Regions from separate parts of the Homo sapiens genome. Here region 1 is linked to region 2. The links come from fine-mapping of genetic effects on gene expression. Tissue or cell type: nucleus accumbens. Region 2 holds a variant in brackets; the other region holds the start of a gene. All regions are shown on one strand. Distances are between the middles of the regions.

Region 1 (2,918 bases), 53 kb after region 2:
CCTTTACAACTCTATCTCCATTAGATTAAGCTCATTAGCGGAAAGGATCACGTCGTGTTTATCTCTGTATTTCCTCTCTCCAGTCCCAAGCAATAGTGAGGTGTTTACTAAATGTCTGATGGCTGGTTGTCTGCAGGCGTGGTTAAAGTTAGCTCTAATATCCCTCCTTTGGAATGAAATATGTATACTTTGTGATTACTGTGTTAATCAGAGTGCTTTTTGTTAACTGCCAGGTTTTGGTTATATACCTCATGTTTGACATTGTCAAGAGTCTGACTTCTGGATAAGTGGATTGTTCCTGTACCATGTACCTTCACAGCATATTCTATTCCAACTATGATCAAAATGACCGAACCACATTTTTCCATTAAGAGCTGTGTGCCTTTGAGTAAATTAGGTTACATGTGTTCCCTAAACAAGTTGTTACTTTTTCCTGACTTTATGTCTCTTCAAAATATATACCTCCCTCCTCTTTCACTCCCAATATTTTATCTGTTTCAAATCCTTTTTGGAACAGAGGTTTAAAAAATATACATGTATACCTTATTTAAATTGATACTACTGTTTTCTTTCCTTATTAAACACACATCCATGTTGTATTTATCTTTCCATTGTTACAATTTATCTCAAGGTTTTGCACTGATTTGACATAGATTTTTGCTAAAGTGTATCTAGGTATTTTTCTGATTTTACATTGCAATTGTAGTGTTGAGAGACTGCCAGGTGTTTACCCTAATGACATAGTTAATGTCTTTAAACTTAATTCTCAATCTACCTCACTTCTTGGTCCACAATCTCTCTGCTTCCCAAAGACCCCTCTTAATGAGTAATATTTGAAATTTGTTTTTCTGAGGCAAAATTAGTGTTTTCTAAAGTTTTGATCACTGATCTCAAAATCAAGCATTAAATAATGGGTATGATACTAAAAATAGAATATATTTTTTCTATTCCTTTTAAAGGTTATAAAATCACATTACCTGATTAGACTGTGATAATCTTAGGATGGTGGGAAATTCATCTTTAAACTCATCTACAAGGTCCATGATTGCTTTCTGGATCCCCTCGACTAAGACAAAAAGAGGTTAGGAAAAAGAAAACTTTGAAAACATCCCCTAAATGTTTCAAAAGAACATGAAACACTTGATCAAATTCCTAGATGACTCGGAAAGTAAAGGAACTCTAGGGGATCTTATTCCCAATTGTTCCCACACCCATACGCCCTTTACAACAAGATTGTGTATACTTCTTCCAGAAAAGTTCTTCAACACCTGCCCACATATCCACCCAACAGGTTTGATTGGCATGGTGAGTTCTTGCTTGGGTTCCTAGTCCTTAACAAGCTTGCAGGCCTGGGTAATGCTTGTCCTAGTCTGCCATTAGTGAAAGATGAGGGTAGCCTTCCACTTGGGAAAGCCAGCAAGGACAGAACTCACAGCTCACTGCTGGAATTCTTTGTTACTGTACAATAGGCTTCCGAGAACCTGCTACAGAATCTTCTGACATCACTCTGGCAGTGAGAGGAAGAGGAGTGTGTTTGGAGGCATAAGGGAAGGAGTGAGGGGATTGAATAATAAAGTACACTAAGGAGTTCTATGATATAAGTTGAAATTTGTCCCAAATTCTGCAGTGATACCACAAATAATGGATCATCTGAGAACAAAAGGTCCCTTTGAAAAAAAATGGCATGTGCTTTAAAAGAAATGCTTTATATATGATGCCAAATAGAAAAGAAACACCAGCAGTGAATTCAGAAAGACTTCTGAATAGATTGTTTTTGCTTCACCAATGAGGATCACTAGGTCAAACTCGGGCAAAACTGTAAAGTCTTTGGTTTCTCTGCTTTATAATCTCAATCTCTTTTCTTCATCTTTTACCCTCCTAGTACCCTCACATGTCAGATGACCATTAGTTCCCCCGATCAAATATGGGAAGAACTTGATACCATGCAGACTTGATTGACTGCCTAGTTTTATATATATATAGTTTGTTTGTTTGTTTGTTTTTTGAGATGGAGTCTTGCCCTGTTGCCCAGGCTGGAGTGCAGTGGCGCGATCTTGGCTCACTGCAACCTCAGCCTCCCGGGTTCACACCATTCTCCTGTCTCAGCCTCCCGAGTAGCTGGGACTACAGACACCCACCACCACGCCTGGCTAACTTTTTGCATTTTTAGTAGAGACGGGGTTTCACCGTGTTAGCTAGGATGGTCTCCATCTCCTGACCTCATGATCCGCCTGCCTCGGCCTCCCAAAGTGCTGGGATTACAGATGTGAGCCACCACGCCCGGCCGACAGCCTAGTTATATTTTAGTGTGAATGAAATAGTTGGTTAACCTGAATCCCATTCTAATTTGAAGCCCTCATATTTAATTGCAGCTAGACCACTTTCTTCAGCAAGCATAAAGCCACGGCTGCTGAAAGTGTCTTCATGGGAACAGTTTGGGAAAGAGAAATCTTCATCCCAGGATTCCTCTAGCATGGGAAGCCTGAAAATCCCCAGCTCTCATGGTGTTCTTAGTCCACAATCTGCCTTAGAACACCCTCCGCCATACCACATTCACCTCTCCTAACCAAAATAGAACCTGCTTGCCTCTCATGACTCTCATGGTTAAGATAACTATGCCCTTAACATTTGGAAAGTGCAATCCATCGGTACAAAGAAAATCATACTAGACAATGATGAATACACACGCTGGGAGTCTATGAGATAATGAAATACTTTATCTGTCCTAGCAAGATAGTTGGTCATCAGCGTCCACTGCAGATGAACACCTGGCAGATCCTTCTCTTTCTGGTCTTCCTCCCTGTTCTCCATTCTCCTCCCTTCCACCATCCCCTAGTTCTTTTTATCCACTGATTCCAATGTCATTGCCCAACTGGTTTTACCCAATTTTCTTCTCTTTTCATCAGTCCTCTCCCTCC
Region 2 (2,918 bases):
TTCTCAAAGCTCCATTAGCAGTGCCCCACTGGGGACTGCGTGGAGGCTCCAACCCCACATTTCCCCTCTGTACTTCCTTAGTAGAGGTTCTCAGTAAGGGCTCTGCCCCTGCAGCAGGTTTCTTCTTGGACATCCAGGCTTCTCCATACACGGTCTGAAATCTAGGCAGAGGCTCCCAAGCCTCAACTCTTGCATTCTGTGCACTCACAGGGTTAATACCATGTGGAAGCCACCAAGGCTTACAGCTTGCACCCTCTGAAGCAGCAGCCTGAGCTGTGTCTGGGCCCCTTTTAGCCATGACTAGAGCTGGGGCAGCTGGGATGCAGGGAGTAGTGTCCTTAGGCTGTGCAGGGCAGGGGGACCCTGAACCTGGCCCAGGAATTCATTCAGTCCTCCTCGGCCTCTGGGCCTGTAATGGGAAGGGCTGCCACAAGATCTGAAATGCCTTTGAGGCCTTTCCCCTATTGTCTTGGCTATCAGCACTTGCCTTCCTTTTAGTTATGCAAATTTCTGCAGGCTGCTTGAATTCCTCCCCTGAAAATGGGCTTTTCTTTTCTATCACATGGCCAGGCTACAAATTCTCCAAACTTTTACACTCTGCTTCCCTTTTGAATATAAGGTCCAGTTTCAGGTCATTTATTTGCTCATACATATAAGCACAGGTTGTTAAAAGCAGCAAGGTCACATTTCTAAGCTGCTTAGAAATTTCTTCCACTAGATACCCTAAATCATTACTCTCAAGTTAGAAGTTTCACTGCTCCATCGGGAAGGGGCACAATGCCTCCAAGTTTTTTGCTAAAGCATAACAAAAGTAACCTTTGCTCCAGTTCCCAATAGGTTCCTCATTTCCATCTGAGGTCTCTTCAGCCTGGACTTCATTGTCCATATTACTATCAGCACTTTGGTCACAAAAGTCACTAGGAAGTTCCAAATTTTCCTTCATCTTCCTGTCTTCTTCTGAGCCCTCCAAACTGTTTCAATCTCTGCCCATTACCCAGTTCCAAAGCTGTTTCCACATTTTCAGGTATCTTTATAGCAATCCCCGACTCATGATACCAATTTTCTGTACTAGTCCATTCTTGCACTGCTATAAAGAAACACCTGAGGCCGGGCATGGTGGCTCACACCTATAATCCCAGCACTTTGGGAAGCCGAGGTGGGCGGATCACCTGAGGT[C/T]GGGAGTTTGAGACCAGCCTGACCAACATAGAGAAACCCCAACTCTACTAAAATACAAAATTAGCCGGGCGTGGTGGCACATGCCTGTAATCTCAGCTACTTGGGAGGCTGAGGCAGAAGAATTGCTTGAACCCAGAAGGCAGAGGTTGCAGTGAGCAGAGATTGTGCCGTTGCACTCCAGCCTGGGCAACAAGAGCAAAACTCCGTCTCAAAAAAAAGAAAAGAAATACCTGAGACTGGGTAGTTTATAAAGAAAAGAGGTTTAATTGGCTTATGGTTCTGCAGGCTGTACAGGGAGCACAGTGACTTCTTTTCTGGGGAGGCCTCAGGAAACTTACAATCATGGCAGGAGGTGAAGGAGAAGCAGTCACATTTTACATGGCTGGAGCCGGAGCAAGAGAGAGAGTGGGGAGGTGCTGCACACTTAAACAACTAGATCTTGTGAGAAATCACACACTATACAATACCAAGGGGGATGGCTTTAAACCATTCATAAGAACTCCACCTCCATGATCCGATCACCTCCCACAAGGCCCCACCTTCAACACTGGGGAATATAATTCAATGTGAGATTTGGTGGGGGCACAGATCCAAACCATATTAGGTAGATTATTACAGTAATGGCCCCCAATGAATAACTCCTCCTAATACCCACTCTTGGGTAATCTTTCCTCACACGTAGTCTGAATTTGGTCATGTGACCTTCTTTGGCCAATGGGGCATTGTGTACAGATGTTTCACAAGTAGGAACTCAATAAACATTTATACATGACAGCTTGCCCTTTCAGAAAAGCTGATGTGACATTGTCATGCTATGAAGACCATGTGGAAACAGAGGCCTAACCACTCAGCCATCCCAGCTGGGCATAGCCTCCAACTGACTCTCCAGCTATTAATAAGTGCACCCGCGTGAGTGGGCCCAGGGGAGATCAACAGAAGAACTGTTGAGTTAACACACAGAACTGTGAGACATAATAAATCATTTTAAGCCGGTAAGTTTCAGGGTGGTTTGTTTCACAGCAAAAGGTAACTAAATAATCGATAGACTGGTAAAATGGTGGTGAATGCATTAAAAAAGGGAGTCAGAAAACCCAGATTTCAGAAGACCTGGATTCTAGTCTCCAATAACATGTCAAATTGGGATGTTTAACTGCTTATCATATAATTTGATGAGATTTCACACCAATAATGAAATGCGAGAGCTCCAAGGGGAAGGTTAAATTCAAGGGATAGAGTCAGGCCCTAACCAAATCCCCTTTTTTTCTTGTGATGAAGCTCCTGCTATTGACATACTTTAGCAGTTCTAGTATTGTTGTATTAAGCAAGATATTCAATAGGAATAATAATAATTGTTAAAATAATTAAATAGGAAGCCATTAGATTGATGTGTCTCTGATGCCCTGGGTTCCTACTTAAGCAAACCAAAAGCTAACTTAGAATTTAAAAGAAAATGAAACTGGAGCTCAGCCAATTACAAGAGGCCAACTGGGCATTAGTCATATTGTCTTGAACTTCCCACTGGGATAATCCAAATGAGGCAACTGCTTAAACTTTTACCAATAAAATAATTTCTTTGCTCTGCTTCTGCATTCACCCTATAAAGGGCTTCCCCTTGAACCCTTTCAGAAGAGCCCAAGCCACTGTCAGTTTGGAGCTGCCTGACTCATGAATCACTGTCTGCCTAAATAAACTCGAAAATTGTAATGTGCCAAAGTTTATCTTTTAACATAATCCTAATAGCT

Direction of the effects. Positions count from the first base shown, and alleles are read on the strand shown. Sizes are in standard deviations (SD) of each study's normalised expression.
As copies of T replace C in region 2, the expression in nucleus accumbens of the gene that starts at base 1,441 in region 1 goes down (moderate effect, 0.41 SD a copy in GTEx).

The links. PIP is the estimated chance that this variant, and not a neighbour inherited with it, causes the effect.
Region 1: it holds the start of SPATA9, and the variant in region 2 is the best candidate, but not a certain one, in a credible set for the expression of SPATA9 in nucleus accumbens (GTEx, PIP 0.57).

The regions. Positions count from the first base shown.
Region 1 is chr5:95,681,551-95,684,468 of GRCh38, forward strand. It overlaps SPATA9 (spermatogenesis associated 9), which reads right to left and starts at 1,441. Exons shown (of 5, transcript NM_031952.4): 1 at 1,244-1,441; 2 at 978-1,066. The coding sequence starts at 1,304. All of the region lies in intron 1 of LOC105379090 (a long non-coding RNA gene), which reads left to right.
Region 2 is chr5:95,628,719-95,631,636 of GRCh38, forward strand. The region is part of intron 1 of LOC112267933 (a long non-coding RNA gene); the gene reads right to left. Among named protein-coding and RNA genes, the nearest start is that of GPR150, 10 kb to the left of the region's middle. The variant C/T (reference allele first, on the strand shown) is at 1,177.